Regions from separate parts of the Homo sapiens genome. Here all the other regions are linked to region 2. The links come from fine-mapping of genetic effects on gene expression. A gene starts in region 2. Each other region holds a variant in brackets. All regions are shown on one strand. Distances are between the middles of the regions. Region 1 holds the start of AKR1B10 (aldo-keto reductase family 1 member B10). Region 2 holds the start of AKR1B1 (aldo-keto reductase family 1 member B). Region 3 overlaps AKR1B10 (aldo-keto reductase family 1 member B10). Region 4 overlaps EXOC4 (exocyst complex component 4). Region 5 overlaps LOC124901750 (a long non-coding RNA gene).

Evidence for each region.
Region 1: its variant is fine-mapped to the expression of AKR1B1 in blood mononuclear cells (TOPMed, PIP above 0.99).
Region 3: its variant is fine-mapped to the expression of AKR1B1 in blood mononuclear cells (TOPMed, PIP above 0.99).
Region 4: its variant is fine-mapped to the expression of AKR1B1 in prefrontal cortex (CommonMind, PIP 0.95).
Region 5: its variant is fine-mapped to the expression of AKR1B1 in whole blood (INTERVAL, PIP above 0.99).

The regions. Positions count from the first base shown.
Region 1 is chr7:134,522,782-134,527,914 of GRCh38, forward strand. It overlaps AKR1B10 (aldo-keto reductase family 1 member B10), which reads left to right and starts at 4,786. Exons shown (of 10, transcript NM_020299.5): 1 at 4,786-5,133. The coding sequence starts at 5,131. The variant G/A (reference allele first, on the strand shown) is at 2,601.
Region 2 is chr7:134,456,266-134,461,398 of GRCh38, forward strand. AKR1B1 (aldo-keto reductase family 1 member B) reads right to left here and starts at 2,835. Exons shown (of 10, transcript NM_001628.4): 1 at 2,732-2,835. The coding sequence starts at 2,797. RefSeq lists a silencer at 2,445-2,634.
Region 3 is chr7:134,531,047-134,536,179 of GRCh38, forward strand. It overlaps AKR1B10 (aldo-keto reductase family 1 member B10), which reads left to right. Exons shown (of 10, transcript NM_020299.5): 3 at 862-978; 4 at 1,958-2,035. Among named protein-coding and RNA genes, the nearest start is that of AKR1B10, 6.0 kb to the left of the region's middle. The variant C/G (reference allele first, on the strand shown) is at 2,732.
Region 4 is chr7:133,674,433-133,679,432 of GRCh38, forward strand. The region is part of intron 10 of EXOC4 (exocyst complex component 4); the gene reads left to right. Among named protein-coding and RNA genes, the nearest start is that of MIR6133, 390 kb to the left of the region's middle. The variant GTGTA/G (reference allele first, on the strand shown) is at 2,521.
Region 5 is chr7:134,698,089-134,703,221 of GRCh38, forward strand. The region is part of intron 1 of LOC124901750 (a long non-coding RNA gene); the gene reads right to left. Among named protein-coding and RNA genes, the nearest start is that of BPGM, 54 kb to the left of the region's middle. RefSeq lists a silencer at 4,809-5,103. The variant G/A (reference allele first, on the strand shown) is at 2,831.

The DNA.
Region 1 (5,133 bases), 67 kb after region 2:
TTGTATTTTTAGTACTATTGCATGTACATTGTGAAATCAAGCAAATTAGCAATTACGTTTGTATCTTTGGGAAGTGAGATATTCAGTGTGAGAGAATGAAGAAACATAAGACAGGTGAGATTAAGCCTTGAAGTTCTTAACTTGAATCAGAAATGTCCATTTGAAGTCGTGTTTTTTTTTGTTTTGTTTTGGTTTTTGTTTTTTTTTTGAGATGGAGTTTCACTCTTATTGCCCAGGCACGAGTGCAATGGTGCAATCTCCGCTCACTGCAACCTCCGCCTCCCAGGTTCAAGTGATTCTCCTGCCTCAGCCTCCTGAGTAGCTGGGATTACAGGCATGCACCACCTTGCCCAGCTAATTGTTTCTTGTATTACTAAAAATACATGGTAGGTTTTTTAAAAGGTATTTCCTACCTCTTTCTACTGAAAAGGCCTGGAAGCAAGATTCAATTCAATTGCAAAGAATGATTCTAGTTCCCTAATTGTGGTTTCTAAATATCAATTTCCACTAAAAGGAAATCTCCTTGGATAAATGTAGGTCTGGAACAGGAAAGCAATGAAGTTACCAAAGGCTATAAAGATTACATGAAAAGAATGCAAAAGCCAATTTGAAGTGCTCTCAGTGGCAAAGAGGATAATTTGGGCATCAATAAGAATAGCAATAGATTATAACATTGAATATATTTAAATTCATGAATTCAAAGAACACTAAATGACAACTAATCTGTCACCTTGGAGGGTGCTTGGAAACCTCCTTTTAAAAACTAAAATAAAAGAATGAATCAATCATTATTCAGTGTTCCTATTCAAACTATACCTCAGGGTAGCCAAATAATTGATTAGGAGAAATTTCTCCTTAAAGAAGTATGCCAGCTAATACATGAAGAAAGAATGGTATAATTAGTATTTCACTGTTTTGTAATGTTATGAAATAATGGATTTAAGTAATGATCATCAATGACTACTGTAAATAATACAAATAAATAAATACAAATAAAGAGGCAGCCAGTCATTCCACCGGAATAGAAGAATACAATGTATAGGAAGTAGCCAAAAAACAAAACAAAACAAGAATTGGATCTGGATTTTATCAAGCCTCTAGGTCTTATTAGTGTTGCCAAGATATTTGGGGGATAGAGTGACATGATAAATACATTTCTGGGAATGCAATAATCAGCAGAATCCAGAGGGCGGGAAACTATAGAGAGAAAGTGATTTTTTGTTTGTTTGTTTTGTTTTGTTTTTTGGCTTTTTTTTTCCTTTCTTTTCTTTTTTTTTTTTTTTTGAGACAGTGTCTTACTATGTCATCCAGACTCCCGGGCTCAAGCAACCATCTGGCCTCAGCCTCCTGAGTGGCTGAGACTACGGGCATGTGTCACCATGCCCAGCTAATTGTTTCTTGTATTTTTCATAGAGACAGGGTCTCGCTATGTTGCTTCTGGCCTCAAGTAGTCCTCCTGCCTCAGCCTCCCAAAGAGCTGGGATTACAGGTGGTGTGAGCCACCACACCCAGCTAACAAATACAGCACAAGGAGAGAAGGTGGGGACGTGTAGTTTTGCATATTTTCAAAATATTTCATAATAAAAAGATTTTTGAAAAATTAAAAAACAAAACTTTGGTGCTCTCAAATAAAATAAAAAATGTTAACATGCACAGGGGATTCAGATTTTGTGATCCTGAAGTTGTACGATCGGGGTTTTCTTTTAAAGAATACAAAATTAAGAATTCAATGTTAGGTACAAAGCCTAAGATGGTGCTCATGCAAGTGAAGGCAACTGAAGGTCAAGTTTTGTTACCTTCATGGTAAATCCAACTCCATGATCACAGCTTTGCAGCTCCTGACCCTCTGGTACCTGCATATCAGTCTAGCTTTAACTCTGCTGGGCACCCTGTAAGTCTACTCTCTGAGCGTCCCCACACTGGCTTCCTCCCGTTCTTCCAATGTATCTTAGTCGCTTCCACCCCTTGGCTCACACTGTTCTGCCCAGAAACTTCTCTGCACTCCCACAATTCTTGGAATTGTTCTTTTTCCTCCCTGTTTCAGATATATTAGTTGCTGCTTCCTCTGTTTCTTAGAGAAATGGATGAGAATGAAAAGCGGCACTACTCGTTCATTTTCCTTCTAAAAATAATTTTGTCTCAATTTTGTATGTACTTAATTTTAACAAAGTAAAACTTCTTATGCACATATATTCATCAGATTTAAAAAATGAGAGTTTCTTAAGGGTACAAAACCAGGAATAGATTGGTAAATTCATGAAGCTAGAAAGTAGCTAATCAAAACTCTTATGAAAACTTCTGGGGTTGATTAAGAATAGCCATAATTCTGTGTAACAAATCCCCTCAAGAGGTGAAATCTATTTCCCTACTCCTTGGCCCCGTCCTGGCCTTGAGACTTGCTTTGATCAATAGAAGGTGACAGAAGTGACACTGCACACATTCCAAGGGTAGGCCTCCTACAATGCTGCTACCTATGAACAAGCCCAAGTTAGCCTCATGGAAAATGAAAAACACATAAAAAGGGTCCCTGCCTTCCCTGACATCCCAGTCCACCCCAGTGAAGCCCACAGAGGTGAGAAAACCCAGCTGACAGACACCAC[G/A]TGGTTCTGAGACCGGCTTATCAGCTGATTCCTGCCCAAATTGCCAACCCACAAAATCACAAGCAAATAAATGGTTGCTGTAATAACCAGTTTGTTTGTTACACGAAAACAGCTAATCAATATACCTTCTTAATCTCAATTATCTAAAAAAGATATCCCTTCTCACTGATTCATAGCTAAGTGGTTCTGGAAGGAATGTTATTATGAACAATACACATTTCTTTATTCTGTGCATCACATGAAAATGGTCAGAATCAAAATGGAGTCACTAATGTTAAAAAACAAACAGAAGACTCTGACAAATACAGCTGGGAAGACCATGAAAAGAGGGTTCTAATGGTTGTACACCTGAAAACCAAAAGTACCATGAAAGACGGTGAAAACCACAACCTTGAGCAAAGGCCATTGCAACTGAACACAAAACATACTCTGCAAGGACCTCTGAACAACTGCGTGTCCAACCTCAGACTAACACCACTTTCATGATTGATCTTTGGAGCCAAGGCTAATTATTTCAAAGCAATTAGATAATCCTCATTTTTTCCTTGAAAAGTTTTGTCTTCCTTTATTTCCCCAAATATACACATAGTTTACTGTGGCATGCATATTCCCATTGCAGTGCTCTATTCCCAGAGAAATATTTTTCTTGTAGGGACCCTCTCTCTGTTATTTAGGTTGACAGTCACTAAGGATTTACTATTTCAACAATACTAGCACTGCATGTCATCCAGTATACACTGGGAAAATAAAGTGCCGCAAGTGCATATCCAGGAGACTTTGTGGCCACCAGATTATGAGGAATGCATGTATTTAATTATTTATTTTTGGGACAGAGTCTGTCTCTGTCGCCCAGGCTATAGTGCAGTGGCACCATCTTGGCTCACTGCATTCTCCACCTCCCAGGTTCAAGGGATTCTCAGGCCTCCCAAGCAGCGGGGACTATAGGTACGTGCCATCATGCCTCGCTAATTTTTGGATTTTTAGCAGAGACAGGGTTTCACCATGTTGGCCAGGCTGGTCTCAAACCCCTAAGCTCAAGTGATCTACCTGCCTCGGCCTCCCAAAGTGCTGGGATTACAGGTGTGAGACACCATGCCCGGCCCATGCATTATTATTAATGTTGAAGTAGATAATTTAACAAACATCAATGAAGTATAAGATTTTTCACTCATAGTTGCAAAATATCATGCCAATTGCCTTCTATGAGCTGTCATAAGCCACAGCCTAGAGATTCAATTCCATTTCAAGATTCAACCAAAGCCAACTCATCAACAAGAACATGTAAAAGACAGAAAAACCCACTACCGGCAGGCTGAAACAGATGCTGTGACGTGGCCCTGGCCTGTCATGGCGTGTCACAGCATGGCACAGGCCTATATCATGTTCCCTAGATTGCTGACTACCAACTAGTTACAGCTGACTCCAATCAGGTCGGGATTTGACCATCTCTGCACTGAACCTGCAATTGCAACTTTTAAAATTGAAACGCTGCTTCTCACCTCTCCTCCCTAGACTCTATTTCACAGAGGAAACCATCACAGGGAAAGCAAGCCCTTGTTTTTTCTTCCTTCTTTGCTTTGCTTTCTTTCTCTCCTTCCTTCTTTCTTTCCTTCCTCCCTCCCTCCCTCCCTCCCTCCTTCCTTCCTTCCTTCCTTCCTTCCTTCTTTCCTTTCTTCCTTCCTGCCTTCCCTTCTTTCTTTCTTTTTTTTGAGACAGGGTCTCACTGTCTGTCGCCCAGGCTGGAGTGCAGTGGCATGATCTAGGCTCATTGCAACCTCCGCCTCCCAGGTTCAAGTGATTCTCCTTTCTCAGCCTCCCAAGTAGCTGGGATTGCAGATACGTGCCCCCACGCCCGGCTAATTTTTGTATTTTTAGTAGAGGCAGGGTTTCACTATGTTGGCCAGACTTCTTTCCCTCCCTCCTCCAACTCTTCTTTTCTTCCTTGCTGTCTCCCTCCCTACCTTCCAACTTTTGGCTGTGTTGAATTTGTTGACTCATCCTGAACAAGCAGAAACTCCAATGATACTGTCACCTAAGAGAGAACTTTGCACAAGGTTGCCATGTTTAATAATTCATTCACAGAATCCTCAATCTCACAAAAGCCTGGAATGGATTTCCTGTTTGGTTATGGCAGGGAAGCTACTGTGGCCAGGCTCCAACTCCTCCCACTGTAGATAGCAGCAGCCTTCTTAAGCAGCCTGTGGCCGGGCACAGTAGCTCACACCTGTAATCCCAGCACTTTGGAAGGCCGAGGTGGGCGGATCACCTGAGCTCAGGAGTTTGAGACCAGCCTGTCTCTACTAACAATATAAAAATTAGCTGGGAGTCACGGTGGGCGCCTGTAATCCCAGCTACTCGGGAGGCTGAGGCAGGAGAATTGCTTGAACCCAGGAGACAGAGGTTGTAGTGAGCTGAGATCGCACCACTGCACTCTAGCCTTGGCAACAGTGCAAGACTGTCTCAAAAACAGCAACAGAGAGCAGGACGTGAGACTTCTACCTGCTCACTCAGAATCATTTCTGCACCAACCATG
Region 2 (5,133 bases):
CTCGGCTCACTGCAACCTCCACATCTGGGGTTCAAGCGATTTTCCTGCCTCAGCCTCCCAAGTAGCTGGGACTACAGGTGCGTGCCACGATGCCGGGCTAATTTTTTGTATTTTTAGTAGAGACGGGGTTTCACCATGTTAGCCAGGACGGTCTCTATCTTCTGACCTCATGATCTGCCCGCCTCTGCCTCCCAAAGTGCTGGGGTTACAGGTGTGAGCCACCGCGCCCGGCCCCAGGGAAAGGTTTTAAGTCATTAAAAAAAAAAAGGAAGTTGATTCCAAGTCCATCCTTATACCATTACTTTGACCCACCATTCCCCGCTGCCCCCACCGTACAATTCTACACCAACCTGATCTCCTCATCCACAGGAATACAAGTGGGCGTTTTCACCATACAGCTATCTCTAAAGTCGTTTTACTTCTTCATATGAATTCAACACATAACTTTTGGATACCTACTCCTATATTTGCCAGGCACTGTGAGAAGTGCTAGAAATAGTAATGAATGAAGCAGACATTATCCAATTTCTCAATGAACTCTGTCTACTGGAATGCATAACCTAAATGTACAGATGTTATGATGTGATGTTATCTTAAACAAATACATAGCTTTTTGGGGCATTGAGTGCTCAAGTGAATAATCTGAAACCCTCTTTCATAAACTTTTACTCCTCAGCCTGGACAACATAGGGAAACCTGTCTCTACAAAAAATTAAAAACAAACTACCCGAGTGTGGTGGCACACACCTGTGGTCCCAGCTACTTGGGAGGCTGAGGTATGAGGACCACTTGAGCCCAAGAGGTTAAGGCTACAGTGAATCATGATCATGCCACTGCACTCCAGCCTGGGTGACACTGAGCCCCTGTCTCAAAAAAAAAAAAATAAACTTTTACTCCTTATTTACCCTAGAGTAGTGATTTTCAAATGATGGGTCACAAAACTAGCTTCTGGAGGTATGACAATAATTTTTGGAAAAATGGAATAGAAAAAAATATTGAAATGCAGCCTACATAGGTTAAGTACTGTTAAGTAATTTTTATTCCAGTTACATGTATATATCTGTGCGTTGCATCATGCTTAGAAAGTATTTGCTATTGCCAAGAAAGCATCCTTCTGCATCCATTCCAAGAGCATAACATGCAACAGATGGAAATTAGCTTGGTGTCATGGTTGTAATTCAATTACAACCTTAGAGACACCACTGGAGTTTTTGGAGGAAACAAATCACGTACCCTGATCATTCTGGCCAAGAAACACTCTCCCTGATGCAAATGACCTTTTTCTTACCTTATATTTACTAATTTTCAACAGCAGGTTTTAGGGTACATGTAAACTCTTCTGTCCTATTTCAAACATCTCACAGTTCACTCAGTTCTTTCTGTTGTTTTCTTCCCTTGTCTGTGTGTAAATATCCAACGCCCAGGCCCATATTCAAATTTTAAGAGAAAAACCTGGGACGTGGGCCTGCCAGATGGTTCACACCTGTAGCTTTGGGAGGCGAGGTGGGAGGAGCGCTTTGAGCCCAGGAATTGGAGATCACCCTAAGCAACAAGCGGAGACTGTCTCTGCGGGGAAGAAAAAAGATTAGCCAGGTGTGGTGGTGAGCGCCTGTAGTCCCAGCTACCCGCAGTGCTGAGGCAGGAGGATCACTTGAGCCCAGGAGTTCCAGGCTGCAATGAACCATGATTGTGCCACTGCACCCCAGCTTGGGCAACGAGACCCTGTCACAAACAAACAAGCAAACAACAAAAACAGAAACTGAGAAACCCAGGTTATGGCTGTGGAATATAATATGCAATACTTAGAAGGTTAAAAATTCTAGGTTTTGCCTCAGCTCCCATACCACCACCTTTGTTGCTCAATTTTCAGATAATCAGGCTCAGGCTATTATTTTTGGTTTTTCATATCATATTATCATTTTTCATATCCTATGATGTTTCATGTCCTATTGTCATTCTCATCCGGCTAGGCACTTCTCGGGGACGCTGTGTGGTGTTGAGGTTTTACAGGGAAAATGCTAACCTTGGCGCCTCCTGAATTATCAACTAGCTACGGGGTGCCCAGATTTTTCTCCCGAGTTCCAGACCCAGGGCACCCCGAGGCGGCGCCTGGCCGAGGAGCTCCGCACTGCGCCTTGTTAACAGCTGGGTCCGGGCAAACTCGCGCCACCTAATTCTCTGCCCTCTACCGGCTTGAGATGCTTATTCCTCAGGGAGGGCAAGAATCGAAACGATTGAGACCAACTATTTACAAGTGAGGCAACCGGGCTACAGGTGCCTCGAGGGAAAGGAGGCTGGGTCTGCGCTCCCACACCTTGCCGACGGCTCCACGTCCCTGTCTGCGCCCGAGGTCCACCGGTCTGTGAAGCCCACTTTCCCCGCCTCCCTCTCGCGTTGTGCCGCTTGGGGCGCCCGCTAGGACCCAAAATGCGGACTGGTGGGCCGCCCATCAAGGGTTGCCCGCGGTAGGGCGGGGGCTCCCGTGAGCTGCTCCCAAACCCCACTCGCAGGATGCTGCCCTGACGCCCAGGGCCAACCCGGGGAGCCAAGGCCCCCGGTCTCTGCAAGGCCGACCCCAGCCCGCTGGGGACCCTGCAAGCCCGCGCGTGGCTCCCAGCACGCCGGGCGTCCGCGGGGCGAGCTGCTCAGGGTCACTCGGGGTCCCTCGCCAATACAGGCCGCGCGGAGAGTGTGAGGCGAGCCCCGGGCCCGCGCCCCCACGAGCACCTACCTTCCAGGTACCCAACCCCAGGATGGGCATCTTGGCGCCGTTGTTGAGCAGGAGACGGCTTGCCATGGCTGCTGCGCTCCCCAGACCCCCGCCCAGTACGGTGCGGCCTTGGCCGCGGCGCGTACCTTTAAATAGCCCGTGAGGTCGGCAGAAAGGGCGCCTGCGGTTGGCGCGCCGCTGCGCGAAGGAGCCTTCTGATTGGTTGCGCTGGGGGTGCCGCGGCGGCCTTCCCCAAGGGTCGGCGGGGATGCTTCTTCCGCCTGGTCCTAGTGGCAGCGGATTCTTTCCGCCCCCAACGCTCGCCCGCGCCCCGCGTGGCAGAAAGGAGTTCCTCAGCTGCTGTATCTGGTGGGAAAGCGAATGCTTTAGCGAAAATAACAGGCATCCCATAAATACATAGACTAGAAATAAGTTTTGGTTTCATTAAGAGCCCAGAAGAATGCCTTTGTTGTCCAACCCCAGTTTGATGCTCTTTGGGAATCTGACGAATACCTTGTCCTTAATCTATGTGAATCATACTGACTACACATATAGTTTACCGCACTTTGTTCTTAGACAAAGGTGCATGCCAGAAAAATGGCTTGCAATCCTTTTGCAAAGCACCTTCACAAAATATGGGTTTGCCCAGACTTTTTGTAGCCTTCTAGATCTCTCTTTGCACCCCACTCTAGGTGTTAGCTGTGTCTGTGCATACTAGGTGTGGTTCAGCAAGCCTTCCACCAAAAGCCAGCATCCTTTGATGTTCTTGAGGTTAGAAAGCCTTGATGGGCTTGATCCAGAACTCTCAGAAGAATTTGGAAAGTAAGGCTGTCCATTCAGAATCAGTAAGACAAATTTCATCAGTCTTTGGAAAGTGAGACTCTATCAAAGCAGTAAGTTCCAGTACAGTAACTTATCAAAACTCTCTAGAGGAAGAAAAGTGAACAGACAGAAAACCACAGAAGAAAAAGTTGACTCTAATATTGTAGCTTCCAGTATTTCAAATTAGAAGGTACAAAATAGTAAATTGATCACCCTAATTGGCAGGTAGAAACACACATTTTTCCAAGATAGCCTAAGAAAAGTCACTTGAAGATCCTTGAAGACAATTTTGGTTTCTTTCCAACAACCTCTCTTCATGATACTCTACCTCACCCCAACTGCTCTTTCTGCTCCATCACCCTCCGATCTTTCCCCTAATTATGCAAGATTGGGAACTCCATCTGCCTGGTAGTGACTCAAGCACCAGGTCTCTCTAAACTCCATGCCGGTGATTTTCCATTTGGTGCTTTCTTTAAAAGTGCTCCCTCCTGGAAAAATTTATACAGAACAGACTAGCCCAGATATTTTTCCATGTAACTTTTGTAAAAATTGTTGCTATTGGGCAAATTCATTTGTCCCCAAGTAATAGAATTTGAACTTGAGCCTAAAGCTGGGAACTTGCTTTGTGTAAAACAGCAAGTTCCTTCCTCCATGAGAGTCCTCTTGACTTGGAGGTTGCTCTGCCAATTGAACCTCCTGGGTCCAAATCCAAAGAGCTAATCTCTTGTGAAAATGATACACCTTGAGTGGCCAGGTTGGTACACACAGAAGGGTCGTCTGTTAGGGACATGGACTCAATATCAGAGGCTTTGTTGTTGGTTTGATAATAATTGAGTATACAGCTTGATTGCATGAAGTTATAACTGTGTCTAAAGCTGGAGTGATACCTGTAGTCTCAGCTTCTCAGGAGGCTGAGGTGGGATGACTGCTTGAGCCCAGGAGTTAGAGACCAGCCTGGACAACATAGCAAGACCCTGTCTGTAAAATAAATAAATAAACCCAGAATATTTTGGCTGGGCCATGCAGACATGAAAAGTTGTATCAGTGGAATTTCTATAGCAACAATAGCACTCTAGTTGGGACATGCTATTGTGATAGCCCCCTAACATCCCCCATTGCCTCTGTAATCTTTGTAAAATGTACACATACCAAAATTTTTGATCTCAAGATTTTTGATCTCCCATCTTTTGATAAGTATACATATCAAAATTTTGTTTGAAAAAGGGAAAAAAACCTTCAATGGAATCCTCCTGAGAAACACTCTAGTAATTGGAATCTTAACATGCTCTGAACCAGTAATCTCCCATCATGGGAATTTTTCCTAAGGAAATAATTTAAAAGGAAAACACACACACACACACACACACACACACACACACACACACACACACACACTAGGTATAGGGCTGGGCTGGGACCAAGGTAAGACAAATGAGGTACACAGGTACAAATTTTCATGCCAGAAGGTAGGAGCTTTTTTACATTTATGTCCTTGGCACTTGCCTTCCCTTAGTCCCAGGCCTGCACACAGATATACACATATGCGTATGTATTTTTAAAATGCTGTATACTTAAAGTAAAACTGTAAATATCCAACAATA
Region 3 (5,133 bases), 75 kb after region 2:
GAACCCTGCACTGCCCTGGGCCTCCCTGTTCCCCATCAGAGGGATCTACCATCTGCCCAGAGGCAATCAGAGGCCAAGGGTGCAGGCGGGTCTTGATCTGAAGCCTCCCTTTCAGCACTGTGATCTCAGTGACTGTGCCCCTGAGACTCTCAGCCAGGGGGAATTTTAGAAAATGGTAGGGGCATTTTTCTATTGTCACATATGAATTTCTTTATTCATTCTAGTAAAAGGTGAGGGATACAATGTTATAAAAAAGAAGAAGATGTTGGGTGTGAGAGGGCTGAGAATCACTGGATCTATATTATACATAACTTGCTGAAAAAAAATAACACTAGTTCTAGGTACTTGGAAAATGCATACATCTGGTAGGACAAATAGACCTCACTGTGTAGCAGCCAAGTCTGGATAAAGCCTTTGTAAAATTATCACTTGGGGCCTTATAGGCTTGATAAGGGACCTATCAGATAGGTCAGATAAAGGACCATCTGCTCCCAAAGGCCTAAGAATGCTTGACATTTAAAAGCTACACACAATTCCTGCTCTCAGAGAGCCTACAGCTGAGGAAGAGACTGAGACAGGTAAACAAATTTCAAATCTGTGGCCACATTTACTTCAATGATCTGAGACACGTATAGAGTACTAGGACAGTTGAAAAAGTCAATTGCTTTTAACACTTAAGACATGTCATTGAGGTGCTGAGCCCTGGTGATGTTCCACACTGTGTCGTGGATCTTAATCAGCTTTGTTACAAATGGCTTGTGGTGGGTTAGATGAGGATGCAAATCAAAAAGCAGGGACAATGAGTACAATGTGGCCCTTCCTTTTCCCAGTATTAATAGCTCATTGCTACACTCTTTGCAGTTGTGGCCCACTTTCTTTGAGAGACCCCTTGTGAGGAAAGCCTTTGAGAAGACCCTCAAGGACCTGAAGCTGAGCTATCTGGACGTCTATCTTATTCACTGGCCACAGGGATTCAAGGTTTAAGACACTCTCTTTCTCAGCCTCTAGTTTCTGAGCAGGTGCCAGAAAATAGTAGCTGCACCAGGGCTGTGGGGTGGTGTGGACTGGGGCAGGAGGCCTTGCATTTCATAATTGGGAATGGCAGGTGGTCAGGAAGAGACCTTGGAGAAGAAACACACTGGCCTGGAAGGGAGGTTGAGGCCATGTGTGCTGCTGAGGTGGCCACATGCCTGGGTTTTCTTGCAGTTATGTCTGAGAGAAGACATGATTTCTGGCAGCCCAGACAAGTTGCAACTGCCATATCACCTTTGTCTTGATTCCACGCCCCAGGGTTGCCCTCCCAGGAAATCTCTTGGGTTACTCTTGCATAACTATATTCCAGGGCATAATTATCTTATTAAGCAAAGTACACCTGGGAGTGGCATCTTGGAGAAAAGCCCAAGTATGGTGATGCTGGAAGGAAGCCAGTAGTGATCCAGGCACCCATTGCCTGGGGCTCTGCTCTTACCTGCTCCTGAGGGGTGGGAGAGACAAATTTCCAGCTCTCTCCCCTCCTGACCAACTGGAGTGATGATGGCCTGCCACCCCTAATTCCACGCCTCTTCTAGAGGCTGCAAGGATAGAAGTTGGCCAATATCTTCTCCAGAAAACCACAGCTTGGATATCTAATCCTTATCCAGTAATATTGAAATGAAAGTTTGCCCTTGGTTGTATATGGGATCTAGGTGTATGAGGTTAATGTCCATGGTGATAATGAACTTCTGGAATGTACTAGCAGCAAATCTTAAAGTCAAGCCAGTCGTTTCTAAAATATTAGTATGCTACAGTAGATACAGAGATTTTAATTAAACTCACATTCCTAAAGTATGTACTCCAGAACTTGAAAAAGTGGTATGCAGATGTGGTATTTAGCAAGAGTCAGGATCCTGAAACCTTGTTGAACAGAACCAAGTGTCCTGATGCAGATTCCAGTAAACTTTTCATTCTGTGTTCACAGTCTGGGGATGACCTTTTCCCCAAAGATGATAAAGGTAATGCCATCGGTGGAAAAGCAACGTTCTTGGATGCCTGGGAGGTAGGTTCCCAGCTTCCTCTAAGTGTGCTGGGAGAGAAATCTTCAGTTATCCATGAGATTCGCATGGATATGAATGAGGCCATGTGCCTGATGCTTTCTAATTTCATCATTGTGATTTTCTAGCTCTTCTAATATCTTCCTCATCACCTTTGGCTTTTGGGTACATCTGATACTATTTATATTTCAAGGCTAATAGTCTTCAAATAAGACTGGAAATACAATGTACCCCACTTTGGGGAATACACATGCTGTTCTCAAACCAGGGCGAGGCATTTGGAACAGGAGGTTTGGGCCTGGGTGTGCTCATAGCAGCTGAGTAACCTAGGGTCAGTTTTGTAACTCATGTAGGGCTCAGTTTTCTCTTCTTAAAAAGAAGTTGTATAATACATACTACCAATATATATCTTCCAGTGTGTGATAAAGATTAAGATGGTTTACATGCCAGGAACATTAGTCATAAAGCCCATTTAACCCTAGGAGACAGGGTTAACATCCCCATTTATAAATAATGACATTTGAAACCTAGATTGTTTGATGACTTGCCCAGGTCTTGTCACAATGTGTGTGGCAGAGCTGGGATTAGACCCAGACTCATCTGAATCACAAGTCCAACCACCAAAGCCATCAGCATGGTGCTTGGCAGGCAGTGAAGACACATCCAGAAATCAGGGAGCCTGAGTGCTCTGCTTCTCAGAT[C/G]TAACCATGACCTGTTTCACGTCATTCACATTCAAAATGAATGAAGGGATGAACATTTTCTCTGGTCATTTTTTATTATTTATACCCTTTTGCAAATGCTAGTAGAGAATGAAGTGGAGGAATAAGTTATAAATGAACAGTGGCTTATGACTCCAAGAGTTAATCGTGTTATTTTGGTAGCTGTCTGTGTAGGTGTGCATGTAGTTGCGAGTTTGTATTGTGTTTTACAAGCAAAAATATATTATGTTTCAACTTTCTGAAATGCTTATAATTGACATGATTCAATGAAATGTAGCTTTTTCTGTGTATTGTTTGTTCAAAAGCATTAATCCACAAGCACAGCTTTTTGTTGTTTTTATTGTCTTAGACACTCTCACTCTGTCACCCAGGCTGGAGTGCAGTGGCACAATCTTGGCTCACTGCAACGTCCCTCTACCAAGTAAAAGCCATTCTCCTGCCTCAGCCTCCTGAGTCGCTGGGACTAGAGGTGCATGCCACCACGCCTGGCTAATTTTTGTATTTTTAGTAGAGATGGGGTTTCACCATGTTGGCCAGTCTGGTCTCGAAGTCCTGACCTCAAGGGATCCACCTGTCTTGGCCTCCCAAAGTGCTCAGATTACAGGTGTGAGCCACCACACCTGGCTATTTGCATTACATATGATAAGATTTTTTTATCTTAACTCTTATGATGCCATGAAGTATGGCAAGTATGTCAATGTAGCCTGCTTCTCGCAGTGCTGTTTTTTGAATGAATACAAGAACGACTGCTAAATAAAACATTTGAAAGGCATGAAAAGATAGCAGTGATCAAGATCAGAGGCTCTGATTTGAAATGAGCAGGCTTGAATATGTAAGCGTTGGATGTTTATGTAGACCCACAACCAGTTCAGTAGAAACCTCACTGACCACATTGAAGCAGAGAGGAGGAAAAATGTATAAAGAAGTCAAGTTCTAATACAGGAAAACTAACCTGACCTATGTGCACAAAAACTTTTAAATTATCTAATTGCCCCATCTGAAATTTTGGGAAACCTAATGATTTCACAGCTTCTAAATTCTACTGCCCAATTTGGATAACATCATATATCCTAGTGGTTCTCAACGTGGCTATGCATTAGAATCACCTGAGGAGTTTAAAAATCCCAACGTCTAGGCTACAACTCAGAGAAAATCTGTAAGAAACTCTGGGGGGTGAAATCCAGGCACTGGTAATTTTTTTTTTTAATTTAGAGAGAGTCTCTCTCTGTTGCCCAGGCTGGAGTACAATGGCATCATCATAGTTTAGTGCAGCCTCGGACTCCTGGGCTGAAGCAATCCTCCCAAGTAGCTGGAATCAAAGGCACATGCCGCCACATCCAGCTAATTAAAAAAATTTCTTTTTGTAGAGACAGGGTCTTGCTATGTTGCCCAGGATGGTCTCCAACACCTGGCCTCAAGCAATCCTCCTGTCTCAGCCTCTGGTAATATATATCAGAAACATATATATTATTAGTAGGTATTATAAGACTTTTTTTAAGAAGAGAAAGCTAAGGCCTACAAGAGTTAAAAAACTTACCCTAGGTTACTCAAACCTAGGCCCAAAACCCCTGTTCCAATCCTCCTGTCACCTCCCAAAGTGCTGAGATTACAGTCATGAGCCACTGCATCCAGCCAGTATTTTTTAAAGCTCCCTGGTGATTCCAAATTGCAGCCAAAGTTGAGAAGGGCTGGATAAAGTGTTCCCTGAACATGTCGTGCTTATCCCTGCCTCTGAGCTTTGCTCCTGCCTTCCTGTGTCATATGCTCATGTTTTTTCCCTCTTTTCTGTCTTTTTTTTTTTTTTTTTTTTTTTCTTTTGAGGCCCAGCTTATACTCTACCTGAAGGACTCCCCTGACAACTGCGGGCTGTATGTATCTCTTCTTTCTCTGCCCTTTCTGACTCTGTCTATGCCGCTGTGATGTTATCTGAGGCAGCCTCAGTGTCATGATTGATGGCTCCATAGAAGGGAACTCTAGCACTTTAATTGGACTATAAGAATCCCAGAAAAAGGGAGCACATTGTATACATTTACATCCTGACAACTTCTGGGCAGGATCTGGAACATGTAATAGATGGCTACTAAATACATATTGCACTGGAGGCTGCTGCTAACATGTATGGTATCTTTGGGCAAGTTTGGAAAATGCCCAATATAGGCTAAAAATTATACAAAGATTCCCTTCCTTGCGTGTCCATGCAGTTTCTGTACCAGGAAGCATGGCTGGATATGCAAACAGTGGGTCAGGCTTCAGTCCCACACAACTCCATGGCCGGGTGCCCCTATCAGGGTGTAATCTGAATGCATGACCTTCCTGCAAACCAAAGCATGCTTAGTGTGGGAGAGAGGGACTCAGGACCCACAAGTGAGGCTTCTCCGTATGCT
Region 4 (5,000 bases), 780 kb before region 2:
CATTGTTTTAAGGTTTGAATTTTTGCAATTCAGGTATATAAAAATGATAGATTACCAAATGAGTTTGGTGTGTTTAACCTCATGATTCACTTATATGCCAATAATGTGCCTTGCCTAGAATGTTTGCTTTCTAATGTTTCTGTGTTACTCCAGCTGCCTCCCTTTATTGCTGTCATATTACAATGAATGTTTTCTGCATATTTATGAAGAGCCTATTAGCAGCATAGACTTGATTTAAAGAACTTCTCCAGTTTATGAATACAGTTCATCTCTTGTGAATGAATTTAGCACTTTAATGCTATTTATTTACTCCACACCATAAAATGTACTATAATAAATAATAGGTCCCTTGGGCCTATGGTAAAACTCACTGATCATCCTCTCAGCAGGAAGATGAACACAACTTGAGTGGAGAAGTAACCATCAAAGTTCACCATGCTCACTGGGATGTCATTTATATACCTGAATCTAATAAAGACAGAATTACAGTGCTTAACATTGTGCTCACTACTAGCATCTGAATTCAGTGAGACTCAGGGAGGGAAAAGACTCAGTCACATTAGCAACATCTTAGAAGGTGATACAAAGTCTAAATTGGCAATTCAAATAAGAAAGTGTTCTTTAAAAGCATATAATGCTTAATTTCTTATGCTAAATACACAGTAAGTTAGTGTTTTCCATTTTCTTCACCCATGGAAAACCCTTAGTTTTGGAGGGTTGTGTTTTTGGTGGGGGATGGTAGGGGGCAGGGGATTGCTTCAAAATCTCTTCTCTGTCAATTCCATTTGGAGTTTTCAAGGCGACCCCAGCTGTCAGCTATCCATAAATGCAATATCTACAAGCCAGGACGTCTGTGTGGCATTTGGTCAGTAGGGCCATTCTGTTTTATGGTTGAAGTCCAGAAAGAGTCAATATATGAGTGTTCAAAACTCTTTCTAGATGAATGTATGCCTGATTATATTCTAAGATTATTTGGGTTATTTTTGTGTTATCTTTGTTTTTATTTGATATGATTTGCTTTTGTAGATATTTGTTCCTTTAAATAAATGGTCACAAATTTGAATGCTTAAAATTTGAAACCAGGCAGTGTATTATAGAAACAGTATAGGCCATAGTTCTGTATCAGGGAAGAGTTGACTTTATTCTGGAAGATTTTTAGGTCTGATTTACTAGTTGTCTACTTCTATGTGGACAAATCATTCTGCTTTGTAGATTATTTGATTTAGAGCAGACTACATATCTGATGGCTCTGCCAAGATGAATTAGCCCCTCACTACATCTCCAGATAACGGCGTAGGAGTGAGGAACTGTATACCGTATCCCTCTAAAGAGAGGCTTCAAAAAGCACAATCTTGATTTGGGTGGTTGGGAATTGTTCCTTTGTTGGACAGCTTTAATTATTAAATTGAGATGAAATATGCCAGCTTATGATTTTTAATACTAATTTATTCAACCTCAAAATTCCCAGTGCACCATTTGGTTCTCTTCTCAGGCAAATTGTTAGTTTCTGCCTTGTGTATTATTTATGCTTGTACTATGAATAAAGGATGTCTCATCTCTATGTGGCAATGTCGTCTGCTTCATGAGCTGACAGTTTTGAAGAGGAACATGAGACAGTCAGATCTGTTAGTGCAACTCAGTCAAGCAGGTGGTCGCAAAATTCGTGGCGTGAGAATTGCAGTCATTCATTCATTCATTCAAAAAATATTTATTGAGTGCCCGTTATGTACCAGGCACTGTTCTAGATACTAGATGGTACTCATCCTCTATATCTTCCTTGTACTCTATGAGAATAAGGTTGTTGTCTGATCGCCTTTTATCTTCTACTTCACCCGACAAAGTACATTACATTTAGAATGGGCGCAAAATTTTATTTTAAACAAGTAGCATACCAAGTATGCCTCTTTTGTTTTAGCTGCAACTGCTGGAATGGGACCGAGTATGCCTATTTTGAAGAGCAACATAGAGTAGTTCTAATCACTTTATGACACCCGTTAAATATTTCAATCACATTAGCCTCAAGTCTAGACTGAATAGCACCAGTTCTTCTTCTAAATAGTTTGGCTGCCCTTCTGTGAGTCTTTTCTAGTTGACTCTTGTCTCTTTTCATGTGTAGGAACCAGGACTGAAGACAGTAATTGTGAGAGGATCTAGCATGTACAAAGTGGAAGGGAGGGTGTTATGTTTCTGTGATTTATTACTTTCCCAAAAGATGTTTTATCAGCTACCACCCTATCCTTTTTTCCCCAAGGCATTCTTTTCTCTCTCTAATTAAGTAAATAAATTAATTAATAGGATATCTATGTGGTATCTAACTGTGTATACCCTTGAGCTATTTATTTTCCTATTTTTCTGGTCATTTTCATTAGTTAAAAGTCTGTTCTTAAGATCTCTTATTTACAGTAGGAGTTTCTTATGTATATTATAGAAAGCTATTCAAAAAGTTATATTCATTTAATCAAAAAATAAATTATTGGGGGGTATGTAGTAAACTCTGTGTGTGTGTGTGTGTGTGTGTGT[GTGTA/G]TGTGTGTGTGTGTGTGTGTGTTGAGAACAAAGTGATGAATCACCAAGGCTTCAGAGTTCTTGCCTCCTTTATTCTGACAGTCATTCTTATTTATGCTGATAACATCTGTCTTATCCTTACAAGGTATTATTCTGTTTTATTAGAGCTCCCTGTTTCATATACATGAGAAAAAACTTAGTGGTTTAGTAATTCTTAGTGTCTCCCTTGTCTCTAATGTTTTGAGTTTTAGGAAAAAAGAACAGAAGATTCTTGTTAACATCTTTGTTACCGTTAAGATGTATTGTTGTTTCTAGGAACAAATGACAAATCCCATGTCTTTGTCATTCCATAAGCCTTCTACCAAATCCATGGGTCAAAGTGCCGTATGCAGGTGATTTACTGTGCTTGATTTGTTCCATGATTTCATCTTTAGACACTTCCATCTTTGTCAAGGCCATGCTAATCTCACCACAGAGAATGTATACTAGAATTTCTCAAATGTCAAATATATTGTGTACACTTAAAAAAAAGATTGTCATCTAAGTTTATCAATCATAAAAATAAAATTCCATAGTTTCAGTTTGCAATTACAAGCTTGTGTCTTAAAGTTTGTTTTGCTCCGATTTTTAATTTGGCTTTTTCTTTCTTTATACATTTCAGCTTCCTTCTTTCTCTAGGTTAATTTCGCAAATATTTCTTAAATGTTGGCTATGTGCAAAGAATTGTTTTAAGCACCTTAATAGCTACAAAGATAAGTAAGAGCTTATCTCTACTTTCTCCTACCCCAAGGCCACCCAAACCTGCTAATCAATCTTAAATCCTTCTCTTTCTGCTAAATATCATTAGAAGGCATCACTTTGAGGGCTTTTTTTGTATTAGTTGTAACTGAGGGATTTTTAAAATATTTTAATTGGTTATTATTGGTAGATATATTTGAGAGACCTTACATCACATAGTGAATTAGGATGTTTATTGAATGTCCTATAATGTGTTCAACAGTGTACTGTTGTTAAAAAGCATCATTATAATTGTACTCTAAAACTTGCAATTTTTAATGTCTTCATTGCCTCCTGCATTTGTTGAAATCAATAATAACCTTTTAAAAAGTATGAACTTTATGATATGTAAATTATATCGCAGTAAAGCTGCTATATAAAAAAGAATAACCTAAAGTATCTAAATTATATTATTGGGTGTTAAAACACAAATAGCCTTCTCTTGTTAGATTTAATCCCACATGTAACAAATTTGCTGGGCCATTTTGCAGCACCATAGATTGACTGCTTTATTCCACATACTACAGTTCTAAAACATGAGGAAATCTTAGTTAACTAATTGAAACACTCATTTGGATAAGAACTTGAGCATGGTTCAATAATTCTCAATTTCCCACTTTGCTTGTAAAACACAATGTAAGTATGGAATTACCCTCTTCACAGCTTATTGCACTATGTGTTCAGTCACAGAGAAATAATTTAAAGCAGTTCACTTCCAACTGTTTCCCTCATGCTGACCCCTTTCTTAAAGTAACGAATTTCTCAAGGTTATGTTTATTTTGAAATTATAAATTTAGTCACATACCTGGTTGGTTTCATTCTCCTTTTGTTGTTTTCCCCTTTGGAATTTCCACACTGTGTCACCAAGCAAGCTCTTGATTGCTCCCACCCTCTTTTTTTTTTTTTCTTCTTTGTTGAGACAGGTTCTTGCTGTGTTGCCCAGGCTGGAGTACAGTGGTATGAACACAACTCCCTGTATCCTCAACCTCCTGGGCTCAAGTGATCCTCCTGCCTCAGGCTCCCAGGTGGCTGGGACCACAGGCGCATGCCTCCACACCTGGGTAGTGTTTTTTGTTTTGTTTCTTTTTGTAGAGCTGGGGTCTTGCCATGTTGCCTAGGCTGGTCTCAAACTCCTGGGCTCAAGCATTCTCCCCGCCTTGACCTCCCAAAGTGCTGGAATTACAGGCATGAGCCACCACACCTGGCCAGCTTCCACTGTCTTTATGGCTCCTCGTCCTGCCTGGTTAATCTCATACTTCTTTCAATTAAATACTTTATTTTATTTTTTATTTTTGTGTTTATTCTTTATGCATTGAAACCGATGTCATAACTTCTGTTTTGTTAAAATCTTTAAGGCCCATCACATATTTATAATTTAGGTCCTTGCCTTGGTGTGTTTTCCTCAGTGCTCCCAACCATAGAAAAGCAGGACAAGTTTACAGTTGCTATTCATCTAAGTCTGATGCTTCTTTCCCATAAGTTGTTTTGGGAATTAAGCATCTTGCTGAAAGTGAATGTGCCATTTTGAAAATCTTAGCAAATTACATTTTCAGAATTTTATAGGGCCTTTTTTTCCCTTTCGCTACCTTTGTTCCAAATCATGCTTTTGAAACAATCTTTCTCCCAAAGCATTTCTATTAATAATACTTTTCAGTTCTCCCTCTTATAACTCATTGTGATAAATTACCTCCTCCCTCCATGATGTTAATGTTCTGGAGGC
Region 5 (5,133 bases), 240 kb after region 2:
GGACATTTAACTTTGGACCACCGTGAACTTTGTGGCTAACCAGATACTGCACTGACTTTACTCAACTCTTGGGCCTTTCAGGAGCTCAGTAATTATCCATTATGAGGCTCCTCACCTGCCCATCACTAGAAACTCCTTTCATTACCTCTTTTTCTCCACCTTTTGTGCCTCCTTTGTTTTAAAAGACTTTGCTATCGAACAACCTGCATTTTAAAATTAGTTTATCCATGCTTCCATTTTTAAAAAGTTATTCCAAGATATGTGCAATTGCCAATTAGAGATATTGGGCAGCAAAAGATAACCAACCCCATCAAACTTGGTTAACAGAATTCTAGCCCAAAGCAAACAAAATTTGACATTTTAACGAGACTGTGCAGGCTTAGCAGGCAGGGGTAGGACTTCAATGTGACTTTTAAAATACTGAAAATAGTTGGAGGACTCCTAAGGGTTTAGGAATCCCAGGGACTTAATCCAGTCCCCAAAGATTCTAAAGATTCCAGAAAATCCTCCATAAAACATAAATACCCTTTATTATATGTGCTTTATGTTGGCCTAAATCCCTTTTTAAATATCTTAATCTCATTCTACCTTACAGTTTGATATTTACATGAGAGTCTCTAAAATACAAGGAAATCCAATTGCATTAAAATATTTCTATGCACATATGGTACCCAGGTGCATAATAAAGGTAGACATCATTATCTTAAAAAGAGTGGCATGCAGTTTCTTCCCTGGTTATTCAATCTCTATCTACTCATATACTTTCCAGCATTTTCCCTCTCCCGTCCAGCCTTCAGCCCTACTTGCCGTCTTCCTTTTCCTTGCTATTAAGTTGGTGGTTCACTAAACTCTTACTAAACATGTGCTGTATTACTCCATGTTTTCCAGAGAAACAGAATCAACAAGATATTGATTCAATATATACACATATATATTTGGACATATACATATATATGGAGAGAGACAGAAAGATAGAGAGACAGAGATTGATTCATTTTAAAAGAAAGTGTGGGAACTGCAAGTCTGAAATTTGCAGGCCCAGACCAGCAGGCTGGAAGTTCTGGCAAGAGGTGACATTGCAGACTTGAGTCTGGAGGCAGAATTCCTTCCCCTTTGTAGGGCCTCAGTCTTTTCTCTTAAGGCCTCCAGCTGATTGGATGAGCGTCACCCACATGATGTATGGTAATCTACTCAAAGTCAACTCACTTAAATATCAATTATATCTTTTAAAATACCTTCTCTGCAACATCTAGGCTGATGTTTGACCAAACAACAGTGCATGACGTTTGTTGTGCCCCCAAACTGACACATAAAATCAACCATCACATGTACAGGCACTGTATTAAGCACTAGGGTGTAAAGATAAATATGACCCTGTCCTTAATCTTGAGGAGTTGATGATCAAATGGAGAAGGAAAGGCAGAAAGGAATCATTTTGGTAAATTCCATATTGAGGTATAGATGCAAAGCTGACAAAGGAGTTTGGCCTTGGGCCAGTATGAGAAGGCTACACTTTATTAGGTGCAATTTGAGCTGGCTCCTGAAGGCTGAGAAGAGGCTCGCCCCAAGGAAAGGCGTTCCAGTGATGGAGAAGCAAAAGGATTTGCACTACGTGGGCAACCGTGAATGGCTGGATGCGCTCATGTAAATAGGCAAGTTTTCTGAATAACCCAGCTGATTTCAAATCACGTTTAGCCATTCCTTGTTACAACATTCCTTCAAAAGAGTCATTTAGCTCAACAAACTCATTGTGGTCCTCTTTTAGACAGAAAGCTTCTCTTTCTCAGAAATGTAGCTGAGTGATGGTATTTTCCTTATAAGAAGAGACGTAGATCAGCTCACTGTCATTGTATCTGAACTCGGGGCTCTCCAGAAAGCAACAATTCCTTTTAATTCCTCTCTTACCTCTTTTCATGCCTCAAATCCCACACACATACCTCAAATCCAAAATAATTCAACCATAGCCTTGTGCATTGATGTCACAGGGCTTTCCTCTACTGAGAGGTTGAGCACAAAATCTCTTTAATTCTCCACTCCTTTCAGACTATGAAATGATGTCTGTTGGTGAATTGTTTATACATTCCAACAAAACAAGCCAACAAAAAAAAACTGAATGTAGTTGGCTCTTTTTTTCTCTCTGTGGATTTCAGAAAATTCCATTATGTTGCCAATTAGGCTTCCAAAATGGATGAACAATCTAAAAAAAAAAATCTAGACAGCAACATTATGTAGAGGAACAAGCACTATACTAGGAATCAGAAAAATGAGTTTTTCTTTTTACTTGTTTAAAACCCATTTATGCCTAGTGTTCCATTACTGGAACGCTGAGCACGTGGGAGTTATTTATATCCTACTGCTTAGGGTCATCACCAAGGTCTGATTGCAAAAATTCAAAAATTGCAATCTCGGGTATAAATGGGTTAAATGTTCTCTTATTTTAACCCTTATCTAAGCTGTGTGACCTTAGGAAAGAACATGGCCTCTCTGAGCTTGGATCCTCATCCATGTGGACTCACACTCTCCCAGGTCCTCCCAGTTCCCTGATCATGTTCCTTTCTTTTTTTGCATTTTGTTTTGTTTTGTTTTGTTTTGTTTTGAAATGGAGTCTCGCTCTGTTGCCCAGGCTAGAGTGCAATGGCATGATCTCGGCTCACTGCACCCTCCGCCTCCTGGGTTCAAGCTATTCTCATGTCTCAGCCTCCCAAGTAGCTGGGATTACAGGTGCCCACCACTGCGCCCGGCTAATTTTTGTATTTTTAGTAGAGACGGGTTTTCACCATGTTGGTCAGGTTGGTCTCGAACTCCCGACCTCAGGTGATCCGCCCGCCTC[G/A]GCCTCCCAAAGTGCTGGGATTACAGGCGTGAGCCACTGCACCCGGCCTCATGTTCCTTTCTTTCCCCCACTTATTTATAAACTTACATTCTTGAATAGAACATCTTTATTCTTTTGCTTTTCCAGTATGTTAAGGCAGTAAAAAATATTTTTGGAAAATACTTAACTTCATGATTTGCCATATACATTATTTTTTACCTAATCCAGGACTGAAAATAGTTAATTTTTGTAGTTGACCATTCATGTGATGTTCTTTCTTTCCATCTGAAGGTAATGTGGAGGCGACATTAACATAACGAAAGCATGGAAGAAGTAGAAACGTCAGTCTTTAATACTGAGCTTCATAACTCTTCCTTCATATACATCATTGCCAAATCAATGTCGGCATTTCAAATTGCTTTGGGATAGCACACCAGCTTGAGAGGAGTTGAGGTGAAGCCTCTCCTTTTGGTCTTCCTGTTGAATAACTACACTGAAATTCACCAACATAGTCAGTGGTGGGCTTTAGGCCACTGAATTAAACCAAGCTCACTGGCCCCATCTAGGGATCAAAAGCATTTAGCCCATGTTCTAACCATTGAATTAGACATCAAAGGTCCAAAGTTCTGAGACTGGCTTAGAATAACCCTTTACCTCCAGGCGGCATAACCTCCAGAACATTCCTGGAGGATGAACTTTTGGCTTTCACCAGCCTGACTGTTAAGCCAGCCACCATGGAAGATGAAATGTCTCACCAGAAATCACTCCCAGGTGGCAGTTCGTGCCTGTTTCCTCTCACATGGCCATCATGGGACGTCATTCTGGAAATCATTCTGCAGCTGTATGAAACCAGGGCCAAAACCCATTCCCCTACCCTGGAAGCAAGGGAAATATGGATATGGGAGAAATGAAATTTACTGACTATTGGTGATGAGGTGCTGTTGTCAAGGGTAAGAACTGGGCAAAAACTTTAAGAGGCTGAACACCTTTTGTTTTATCAAGAAAACTGTGAAAAACCCAAGGCAAAACAAGCAAGAAGCAAAATGGCCAATAGTTTGTCTCCAGCCAGGCCTCTATAAAGACCAGGAGGAGCAGCCTCCCAGGAGTCAGGGAGATAGATAGGCTATCTTCTTGTCTAGTCACTGTGAGATGACAAGGTCACAGGGTCACTCAGCTTTGTTTGTAGAATCCTGAGCCCCCTAAATCCAGTCTTGGATAGGAGGAGTGGGGAAGAAGCTTTATGGAAGGAGGAGTCTTATCAAGATTCTGGGGGACCCGCAAGTGGCTCTGGGCCTGGGAACAGCCACTCTGCCATATTTGCTAAATACCTGTCACCAGCAGAATCCTGCTCTAGATGCTGAGAGGAGCTACAAGGGCTATGAAAGTTCTCTCCATCATGGAGTTTGAGGTATGAATCGACCCAAAACCAGTCTGTAAAAATGCATGTGATCATGCATTTACTGTCCCCCTCAGCTGCATAGAAAGCTACACTAAAGCTACCCCTGCCACTCAAGGGTGGGACACACCTGCAACTTCAGAGTTGGAAAGCACCCACAGTAATCCCGTTGAACAATCCTCTCCCCGATTTACAGAAGAAACAATACCCATGCAGTTGGGAAGAGGCAGCATGGGAAGAAGAACTCCAGGCTGCTGGAGCCCATGAGAGGTCCGGTCCCGCCCAGGCTGCCTGACTCTTCTTGTGAGTTAGGAGAAGGGAGTGAGAGAGGCCAGAATCCGACCATGTGAGCTTTAATCCCCTTTGTGATATAGTCTGTGCTTACAAATGGTTAAGACAGTGTGTGGCTTTGCCTCTTTTTCTGCCCACATGCTGACAATTTTGTTGAACAAAATTACAAGAATAGCACAAGGATAACCTTTCCCCTGCCCTCTGCATGGGTCTTCCCGACATTGTTATGCTCGCCTGTCTTGTGCTATTAGATCAGCTTTCTTATTGCATCTATGCATTGTGGAACATTCTGGCTACAAGCCTGCGTGCTGGAGCCAGACTGCCTGGGTTCAAATCCCACCACTACCTCTGCTGGCTGTGACGTTTGGCAAGTTCCTTAACCTCTGTCTTCAGTTTTCTTGCCTGAACAGTAAGGAAGGGGATCAGATCCTCTCAAAGGTGCTGCTCAGCCCTGACATGATTGTGCTTTTATTTATTTAAAAAACATAAAAATGATGACTGTGCCTATTACAGGAAGGAATGGAACAGAAGGAGCAGGCAGTGGTGAGAGAAAGATGGATCAAAGAGCCTTTCCCTTCAGCTATAAACCAGCTTCTCTTGTTTCTCTTTGCCTTGCTTTTAAGGTATCTCTGACTAC